Regions from separate parts of the Homo sapiens genome. Here region 2 is linked to region 1. Evidence: fine-mapped expression QTL. A gene starts in region 1. The other region holds a variant in brackets. All regions are shown on one strand. Distances are between the middles of the regions.

What was found. PIP is the estimated chance that this variant, and not a neighbour inherited with it, causes the effect.
Region 2: its variant is fine-mapped to the expression of ACTR5 in whole blood (TOPMed, PIP above 0.99). The same link has a PIP of 0.9 or more in T cells.

Annotation. Positions count from the first base shown.
Region 1 is chr20:38,745,123-38,750,494 of GRCh38, forward strand. It overlaps ACTR5 (actin related protein 5), which reads left to right and starts at 3,338. Exons shown (of 9, transcript NM_024855.4): 1 at 3,338-3,731; 2 at 4,888-5,117. The coding sequence starts at 3,357. RefSeq lists silencers at 2,814-3,083, 3,384-3,573 and an enhancer at 2,934-3,435.
Region 2 is chr20:38,788,033-38,793,411 of GRCh38, forward strand. No RefSeq gene overlaps it. Among named protein-coding and RNA genes, the nearest start is that of PPP1R16B, 15 kb to the right of the region's middle. The variant T/C (reference allele first, on the strand shown) is at 2,611.

The sequences.
Region 1 (5,372 bases):
GATTTTGTCTAGTGCTACAGTGTGCAATAGAGTAGCCACTAGCTACATGACTATTTAAATTTAAACTAAAATTAAGGCTGGGTGCAATGGCTCACACCTGTAATCCCAGCATTTTAGGAGGCCGAGGTGGGCAGATCACTTGAGGTGAGGAATTCACAACCAGCCTGGCCAACATGGTGCAACCCTGTCTCTAATGAAAATACAAAAATTACCGGGGTGTGGTGGTGCATGCCTGTAATCCCAGCTACTCGGGAGGCTGAGGCAGGAGAATCGCTTGAACCTGGGAGGCAGAGGTTACAGTGAGCCGAGATTGTGCCACTTCACTCCAGCCTGGGTGACAAGAGCGAAACTCCATCAAAAAAAAAAAAAAAAGAAAGAAAGAAAGAAAAATTAAAATTAAGAACATTTTAAAAATTCAGTTCTTCAGTTACACTATTCACATTTCAAGTGCTCTGCGGCCACATGTGGTTACTGGCCACTGTGTTAGACACAACAGATACTAGATCATCTCCATCAATTTGCACATTTCCAATGTACAAAGTTCTGTTGGACAGCATTGGTCTAGTGTATTAGTCGGTTTTCTCCTGCAATAATACTGCATAGCAACTCCAGAATTTCAGTGGTTTATAAGAATAAACATTTTTCTTGTTCAGAGGTCCATGGGGCAGCTCAACTTTAGGTTGCAGGTTGGCTGGACTTGGCTTCGGACTGCAGTTTAGGTTCAGATCTGCTCCATGTATCTCTTATCCTCTTTGGACTCAGGTATGTTCCTCTCATGACTAAAAGCAGGAGTGCAAGAAGGCAATCTAAACCAATCATATTCAGTTAACAGTCCATTGGCTAAAGCAAGTCACATGACCAAGCCTAATATCAGTGTCCTCAAGGAGAGGCTCTACAAAGTTACAAGGCAAATGGTATGGATGTATCATCCTACTATAAAGGAGTGAAGAAAAAAAAAGTAAAGGAATGAAGAACTGGGAATAATAATCCAATCTACCTCATGTGCCAAACGCTTATAAAGACCAGCCTGGGCAACATGGCAAAACTCTGTCTCTATGTGGTGGTGTGCACTTGTAGTCCCAACTACTAGTGAGGTTGAGGCTGGTCTTGAACTTCTGGGCTAAAGCAGTCCTCCCACCTCAGCCTCCCAAAGTGCTGGGATTACAGGCATGAGCCACCACACTGGCCATCCCCGTTGGAGTTGCCTCTCATATATATATAAAATAATAATATATATAATATATATATTTACCTTGGTGCTTTTCTTTTTTTCTTTTTTGTGAGACAAAGTTTCACTCTTGTTGCTCAGGCTGGAGTGCACTGGCGTGATCTCGGCTCACTGCAACCTCCGCCTCCAGGGTTCAAGCGATTCTCTTGCCTCAGCCTCCCAAGTAGCTGGGATTACAGACACCTGCCACCATGCCCAGCTAATTTTTGTATTTTTACTAGAGACGGGGTTTCACCATGTTGGCCAGGCTGGTCTCGAACTCCCGACCTCAGGCGATCCACCAGCCTCGGCCTCCCAAAGTGCTGGGATTACAGGTGTGAGCCACTGCGCCCAGCCAGTGCTTTTTCATATTAATATACATAGACACAATTCTTAAATTAACATTCACTAACTTACATTTACTGGTTTCTGTGTTCTGCTGGTCCCCCTCTTAATTAACTTAACGATGGTTACTTCAGATATCTGAACAATGGACGTGTGTTGAAAGACAACACAACCTGATTTTTGCCACTGGGCTGGCTCCCAATCTGGTTTAGGTGTGTTAACAGGCTGGGCCCGTCGTCTCAAGCCTGTAATCCCAGCACTTTGGGAGGCCGAGGCAGGCGGATCACTTGAGCCAAGGAGTTCGAGACCAGCCTGGCCAACGTGGCGAAATCCCGTCTGTATTAAAAATAAAAAAAATTAGCTGGGTGTTGTGGAGCATGCCTGTAATCCCAGCTACTCGGGAGGCTGAGGCAGGTGAATTGCTTGAACCGGGGATGTGGAGGTTGCAGTGAGCCAAGATCACACCACTGCACTCCAGCCTGGGTGACAGAGCCAGACTCCGTCTTAAAAAAAACAAACAACAACAACAACAAACACTGTTAATAGAGGTTCTTGAGATAAGTTAGGAGTTTCATTTCTCGCTTACAATATCTTTTGTAACTAATTTGATTTTATCTCTCAAACTGAAGTGTTATAGACCTGGTAGAGTAGATTCAAGGCAGCTGCTCTATTCTTTTTCTTCTTTCAAAATGGTTATGGCCAGCATGGGCAACATAGTGAAATCCCTTCTCTACTAAAAATATAAAAATTAGCTGGGCGTGGTGGTGCACGCCTGTAATCTCAGCTACTTAGGAGGCTGAGGCGGGAGAATCACTTGAGTCCAGGAAGTCGAGGCTGCAGTGAGCCGAGATCGCCCCACTGCACAAAAAAAGGTTGTAGTAAAACAACTGCTCTAATTCTTACCCCCTTAGCTAGTGAAAAGATGGAAATGCGACAGGATAGAGCGCGACGAGTGCTTTTAGGGCTAAAACTGAGTGGGTCACACACATGGCCTCCTCTCCCACCCGCTCCTGGCCAGAATTTAGTCACATGAGCGCATCTAGATCGCAGCCAGACGGATGGCCACGTGGGAGTGGGAGGTGATGCCACTAAAAGAGAGGGAATGCTTGGGGAACAATCAGCAGTCTTTTCTCAGGGTTTGAGAAAACACTGTGTCTTAGTGAGAAGACACAGTCTGTGCGAGTTAGTAAAGTGAACAGAACTGAGTAGTCAGCTCCCTAGTCAAGAAATTGAACAGTCGGCAGAGTTTGAGATTTCTTAACGTAAAGGAAGCGTCAAAAGATAAAGGACCCTTCTAGCCAGGACGCAAGACTGAGGGCGAGACAGCCACGCGGAGGCGGGGCCGCCGGCGGTCGAAGGTGCGCGCCCGGCCGACGGTGCGCGCCCGGCCGACGGTGCGCGCCCGGCAATGGGGCGTGGCCAGGCAGAGAGGCGGGGCTCCACCGAGCGCGGCGCTGAAGCTGGCAGCCAGAAAGGGGCGGGGCCTGGCGGCGATAGGCTTTGGGGCGGGGCTTCCAAACCGGGCGTCCCGGCTAGAGTGAAGGGGCGTGGGCACTCATAGGCTATTGGGGGAGAGGTTAAGAAACGTAGAATTTCGCAGCCAGAATGGGTACGTCTCAGCGATCCTGAAAGCAGCCTTGACAGCCAGAGGCGAGTCAAGTGGAAAGGCTGGCCGGGCTTCGAGAAGGGAGGGGGCATCGAGGTACTTAAAGGCCTGAATCGCGCGGCGTGACGTCGGGGGCGCGGTTTCGCGGCGTCTGGGCGGACACTGCGCCGAGGGGCGGGGCTGGACGCGCGCTCCAAGATGGCGGCGAACGTGTTCCCGTTCCGCGACGCCCGTGCCGCACCGGACCCAGTGCTGGAGGCCGGCCCGGTGGCACACGGGCCACTGCCGGTACCGCTGGTGCTGGACAACGGGTCGTTCCAAGTCCGCGCTGGCTGGGCGTGTCCCGGGCAGGACCCAGGTCCCGAGCCGCGCCTGCAGTTCCGCGCGGTGTGCGCCCGCGGTCGTGGCGGGGCACGGGGCGCGTCGGGCCCGCAGGTGGGGAACGCTCTGGGCAGCCTGGAGCCACTGCGCTGGATGCTGCGCTCGCCCTTCGACCGCAACGTGCCGGTCAACCTGGAGCTTCAGGAGTTGCTGCTGGACTACAGCTTCCAGCACCTGGGTGTCTCCTCACAGGTGAAGGGCGGAGTAGGCTGGGCTGGGCTGGGTTTGAGGGGAGGGGTGCGGTCTCGTCTCCGCTCACTCTGCTCTCGGAGAGGTAACAGTCACTTCAGTAGCTCCGATTGTCTTTTAGTCGACCAGATGCTAGGCGCTGTGGGTGTAGCAGCGAATAAAATGCTGCTCCTTGTATCTTGGAGCATACCTTTGGGCATATATGCTTGTTTGTTAAGAAGCCCATTTATTAACAAATACGTATTGAGCACTTACTCTGTGTCAGGCACTTTTTAGGCATTTGGAGTACATGTGTGAACACAAAACTTCCTGTGCTTATGGAGCTGTTAATACTATGGAAAGATATTCTAGTATGAAAAGGCAGACAGTAAACATAGAAATAGTAGATTCTACGCCGTGATAGGAGAGGAGGGAGTTACATTTTTTCAGTAAGATGGTCAGGGTAGGACTCGTGAAGGTGATGTTTGAGCAAGGACTTGAAGGAGGTGATTCAGGTAGCAAGCCATGTGAATATCTGAAGGAAAAACGGTCCAGGCAGAGGGAGCAGCCAGTAAAAAGGCCCCGAGGCAGGAGTGTGCCCTAATCCTAACTGCAAGGCTGCCTGTGTGAGGGGGAGAGTAGTACCTGAAAGAGGATGTCAGAGAGGTAGTGGAGAGGCAGATCACACACCTTATAGGCTTTTACTGAGTGAAATGGGGAGCCATGGCAGGGTGTTGAGCTGAAGAAGGACCTGACTTGTGTTTTAAAAGGATCACTATTACTGCTGTATGGAGAATGAATTGTCTTGGATCATAGGGTGGAAACAGGGACGAGTTAGGAGGCTGTTGGAATAACCCAGGTAAGGGATGATGGTGGCTTAGATGAGGCAGATAGCAGGGAATGTCATTAGAAGCAGTTGGATTCTGGAAATACTTTGAAGATAGAGCCAACACGATTTGCTGACAGTTTGGATGGGACCTTGACTTAATAACTTAAATTGACTCTACTTTCGTATTTTCAAGTAAAGATGAGATGGGAGTTTTATAATCGCCTCTGATCAGGTTTTTGATTAAGAAGCCAAAAGCAAATTCAGTCCTGCAATAAGGATTTTGGGTTCTTTTATGCTTCAAAAAGAGTATTCTGTTACCACTCATTTATTTGCCCTTTTCTTTCAAAGTAGGGCTGTGTTGATCATCCCATAGTTTTGACAGAAGCTGTGTGCAACCCACTGTATTCACGGCAAATGATGTCTGAGCTTCTTTTTGAGTGCTACGGGATTCCCAAGGTTGCCTATGGAATAGACAGCCTCTTCAGCTTCTACCACAATAAGCCAAAGAACTCGATGTGCAGTGGGCTAATCATTTCATCTGGATACCAGTGTACGCATGTTTTACCCATCTTAGAAGGGAGGTGAGTTGCACTTGTGGCATTTGAGTGCGATTTTGAGAAGCATTCAGGAAACATTTATTTACTGCGTGCTTTAAAGGCAGAGTAGAAAGAGCAAGTACTAGCCTGTGAACTGAGCCGTTGGGCTTAGCTTTGAACTACCTCACTGTGTGACTGGGTAAGTCCCTTTGCCCATAGTTGTGTCCTTTGTGACCTTCTGGAGGGAGTTGGGGTGGATGATCTCTTAGTTCCACATCCATAATTCTACAATATTATAAT
Region 2 (5,379 bases), 43 kb after region 1:
TGGCTCAGCAATTCATGCTGGGCTCAGCTGGGCAGTTCTTCTGCTGGTCATGCCAGAGTCACTCATATGTCTATAGTGATACGGAACTTAACAGGGGCAGGCAGTCCAAGGTGGCCTCACTCACATGTCTGGGGCATCAGCTGGGATTCCTGGAACAGGTTGAGTGGCTGGATTATTCCGTGCATGTAGCCTCTCATCCTTAAGGAGTCTACTCCGACTTTATTCACAAGGTGACAGTGTTCCTAGAGAACCAGGCCCTGTGTATACAAGCATCCCAAGCTCCTGCCTGCCTCATGTTTGCTGATGGCCCACTGGCCAGCGCAAGTCACATGGACAAGCCCCAAGTCAGTGTGAGAGGGGGCTATGCATAGGCGTGGATGTCAGGAAGTGTGGTCCATTGGACTCCATTAATGTCATGACGTTGCCATGTAATATACAATGCATGCTTGGCCCTCAGCCTATGTCTAAGCTCAGGTGAGACCTTCCCTGGGACAGCCCAAGCATAAGCAAGTGAGCCTGGCAGGTGAGACTAGAGCTGGTGCAACCTGCATTAATGAGGGGATTGGTGCTTTGATAGGATTAAACCAGGGGCTAGCATAGCACAGAGGAGGGGGCTTAACCAATGCCAGGGCTTTCAGAGGCCCTGTGGCTAGAGGTGACAAACACAGTCTCTCAAACCAGGCAGACCTGGGTTCAAGTCTTCACTCTGCCATTTCCTTCTTCTGTGGTCCTGGGCTAGTAACTCCCCTACTCTGACTGTCAGTTTCTTCATCTGTGAAATGGACCTCACAGGGTTGCTGTGAGAATCAAAGGAGCTCAGAAGAGCTTAGCCTGACACAAAGCAGCAGTCTATAAATGGTGGTGCTAGTGATCAGTGTGATAAGAGTGGTGATAAACATCATGGTCCCTGACATTGGTGACAGGAGGCAGGGTCATGGATGTTCTGGATGAGCAGAGAGCTCTGGATAGGTGACTAGGAGTGGCCTGTTAGAGGAGGGCAGGGAAGGGCATCCCAGGCAGAGAGAGCGGTGCATCCAAAGGCGTGGAGGTAGGATTGAGAATGATGTGCATGACCAACTGCGACACCATCGGTGTGTGCAGTGTGCCTCGAGGACGGGTGCCATGGCAGACCGCATTTTCCCAAGACAGATATCGCCTATATATCACATGATCGTCTGACAATGTGGCTGTTAGGAGCAGAATCATGTTCCCACAAATATATACGTTGAAGTCCAGTACCTCAGAATGTGACTGCATTTGGAGATAGGGCCTTAAAAGAGGTGATTGGCCGGACGCAGTGGCTCACACCTGTAATCCTAGCACTTTGGGAGGCCGAGGAAGGCAGATTGCCTGAGCTCAGGAGTTCGAGACCAGCCTGGGCAACACGGTGAAACCCCATCTCTACTAAAATACAAAAGAAATTAGCCGGGTGTGGTGGTGTGTGCCTGTAGTCACAGCTACTCAGGAGGCTGAGGCAGGAGAATCGCTTGAACCCAGGAGGTAGAAGTTGCAGTGAGCCGAGATCATGCCACTGCACTCCAGCCTAGACAACAGAGCAAGACTCTGTCTCGACAAAAAAAAAAAAAAAAAAAAAAAAAGAGGTGATTAAGTTAAAATGAATGCGTTAGGGTGGGGCTGTAATCCAGTATGACTGTGTTCTTATAAGAAGAGGAGACACCAGGCATGTGCCACACAGAGGAAGAACCATGTGAGGACACAGTGAGAAGACAGCCATCTGCAAGCCCAGGAGGGGGTCCTTAGGAGAAACCAACTCTGCCCACACCCCATCTTGGATTTCTTGCCTCTACAACTCTGAGGAATAAACTTCTGTTGCTTAAGTCACCCTGACTGTGGTCCTTTGCTATGGCAGCCTTAGCAAACGAATATATTGACTTTGACATCCCTCCCATCAAAGGGTGTCCTATTTCTCCTCTCCTTGAAACTCACACTTGAGCCCAACCGCCATGCTATGAGGAAGCCCGAGCTAGCCCAGCAGCCATGCTGTGCCTGAGCTAGCCTAGCTGCCATGTTGTTCCTGAGCTAGCCTAGCAACCATACTAGGAAGCCCAAGCTAGCCCAGCTGCCATGCTGTGAGGAAGCCCAGGCTAGCCCATGCTGTGAGGAAGCCCAGGCTAGCCCATGCTGTGAGGAAGCCTGAGCTAGCCTTCACGGAGAGACCACACAGAGAGACCCTTGGTAGGGGTTGCAGCTGACAGCCATCATCAATACCCAGACAGGTGAATGAAGACACCTCCGGATGATTCCAGCTCCCAGCTATTGAGTCACCCCCCCCTCCACGTCCCCACCCCCAGCTGGTGAGTCACCCCCAGCCAACAAGTATTTCCACCTGAGGCCCGGGACATGTGGAAAAGACAAACTATCCCTGCTTCACCTTTTCCAAATTTCAGACCTACAGAATTCATAAGCATAATGAAATGGTTGTTTTACCCCTCTAAGTTTTGGAGTAGTTGGATACAAAGCAATAGCATCTCCCAAGGGCTCTTCTAGATGGAGCAGCTACCCACAGCCTGGTTCTGTTTTTGACGTAACAGCGTAGAACGCCCCTCTCCCGAGCACTCCCGAACTTTGAGAGAGACCTGATACTGCCAC[T/C]TGGTGGCCAATAGAAACTATGCAAGACCCGCTGTTTCGCCCTTTCTTCTTCCTTAAGAGTTTATTCACATTCATTCATTCATTCCACATTCATAATCCCTGATGGTGGTGGATCAAGTGTAGTTTTAAAAAGCATATTCGAAAATTACTTTTTTTAATATGCTTTCATCTTTGGTCATGAAATTTCATTTACAAGTCTACAATCCCTTACACTCTTCCAAAATCCAAAATTCTCTGCAAACTCAAAGCGTTTGCATCAGTTTATAAAAGCTTACTCAGTAGCTAAATCTAATCCGAACTGGCTTAAGGCTATTTATAGTCTTTCATTAACATTTCACAGTAAGATTTTTTTTTTAATTTTTTTTTTTGACGGAGTCTCACTCTGTCGCTCAGGCTGGAGTGCAATGGCACGATTTAGGCTCACTGCAACCTCCACCTCCCGGGTTCAAGTGATTCTCCTGCCTCAGCCTCCCCAGTAGCTGGGATTACAGTCACCCGCCACCACACCCAGCTAATTTTTGTATTTTTAGTAGAGACTGGGTTTCACCATGTTGGCCAGGCTGGTCTCAAACTCCTGACCTCAGGTGATCTGCCTGCCTCGGCCTCCCAAAGTGCTGGGATTACAGGTGTGAGCCACCATGCCCAGCCCACAGTAGAAATAATAATATTTGATTTGGGGGTGCTGCTCTAGACCCCTCTAAGGATGTCGTAAAATAGCAGTAGTTCTCAAAGTGTGGTTCTGAGACCAGCTGCATTGGCATCAAATGGGAAATGGAAATGGAAATTCTCAGGCCCCACTTCAGACCTACGGAGTGAGTGTGGCCCAGCCCTCTGTGCTTTAACAAGCCCTCTTGGAGATTCTGACTCACGCTCACATATGAGAGTCACTGATATAGACTCTATGCACCCACCACATTGCATTTATAAAATTCAAAAAATTGTGAAATTCCTAAGCACATGTAGTCCCATGCTTTATGAAAAAGGATTGCTTTCAGACCTGTATTTTGGAATGTCAAGTAATATTAAGGGAAGCCATGAGATTTTCATGTCTAAAAAGGGGGGAAGGGGCCAAGCGTGGGGGCTCACGCCTGTATTCCCAGCACTTTGGGAGGCCGAGGCGGGTGGATCACCTGAGGTCGGGAGTTCAAGACCAGCCTGACCAACATGGAGAAACCCCATCTCTACTAAAAATACAAAATTAGCCAGCCATGGTGGCGCATGCCTGTAATCCCAGTTACTCAGGAGGCTGAGGCAGGAGAATTGCTTGAACCCGGGAGGAGGAGCTTGCAGTGAGCCGAGATTGTGCCATTGCACTCCAGCCTGGGCAACAAGAGCAAAACTCTGCCTCAAAAAAAAAAAGGGGGGGCAGTGGGGAAGGAGTTCCTTGTAGGAATGGAGAAAGGGTGTGATTAATAACAATAAAAGCTAACTTTTGCTGAGTTATTTATAACCTATCAGGCACTGCGCCAAGTGCCTATGCTTATCTAGTCCACATAATGCACCTAGGAGATAGTTACTTTTATCATACCCATTTTATGAATGGGGAAACTGAGGCAAGTGGTGTGAGCACCTACCAAAGCCTGAAGAAGGTCAGCAGTAGAAGCTGTGGCCTTCAGTAGAGGGACACAGCCAACTCACATGGCCTCACTTCTGCCCTCTTATCTCCTACAAGAAGCCAGAAGACAAGGGAATTCCTATGGTGTCATCCACAGTAGTGCAGAGCAAGATGAAGTATGCTACTCAGGCCTCCAAATTTCCCTCCAAAACAACTGCACCAGCGTTTGGTTCCTCCCACCCCAATGGGTTCCACTTACACAGTCTTAGGTCTGTAGGGCTAGTGAAGACAGCCAGCCTATCATTTATTATGCCTCTAGTGCAAATCTGGGTATCACAAATGCATGCTATTGTGGTTATAAAATATAAAAGTATCAGCCGGGCCCAGTGGCTCATGCCTGTAATCCCAGCACTTTGGGAGGCTGAGACGGGTGGATCACCTGAGGTCGGGAGTTCGAGACCAGCCTGGCCAACATGGTGAAACCCCGTCTTTACTAAAAATACAAAAAAAAAATTAGCTGGACATGGTGGTGGGTGCCTGTAATCGCAGCTACTCAGGAGGCTGAGGCAAGAGAATCGCTTGAACCCAGGAGTTGAAGGTTGCAGTGAGCCGATATTGTGCCCTTGCACTCCAGCCTGGGCAACAAGAGTGAAACTCCATCTCAAAAGTAAATAAATAAATAAATAAATATAAAAGTATCACACTGTAAGTGTTCATTTGCAGCTTGCATTTTTTCCCAACTCATTTTGTTTTTTCAGATTTATCTATGTTGATGCAGGCAGCTTTATTTCTGTTCATTCTCTCTGTTGTTTAGAATTCTGCGATATTAAAGCACTCCTGAATCCATTTATCCATTCCCCCTTTGGTAGGCATTTAGGATGTTGCTGGCCTTTTGCAGATAAAGGCCTAATGAATATCTTTAGACATGTCTTCTACACAGGTGGGAGGTTTTCTCCTAGCTGGATGTTCCTAAATGTGGAGCTGCTGTATTACTGGACGCGAGTACCCAACTTTCCCAAATAATGCCAAATTTCCCTCCAAAACGATTGCACCAGGGTTTGGTTCCTCCTACCCCATGGGGTTCCACTTACACAGTCTTAGCCCACCGCGGTATTGAGAGACTATTTTATTTATATTTATTTTGCCTTTCCGATGGATGTGACCTCTACCTCCTATCTGTTTTATTTACATTTCCCTGATAATTCAGAAATGGA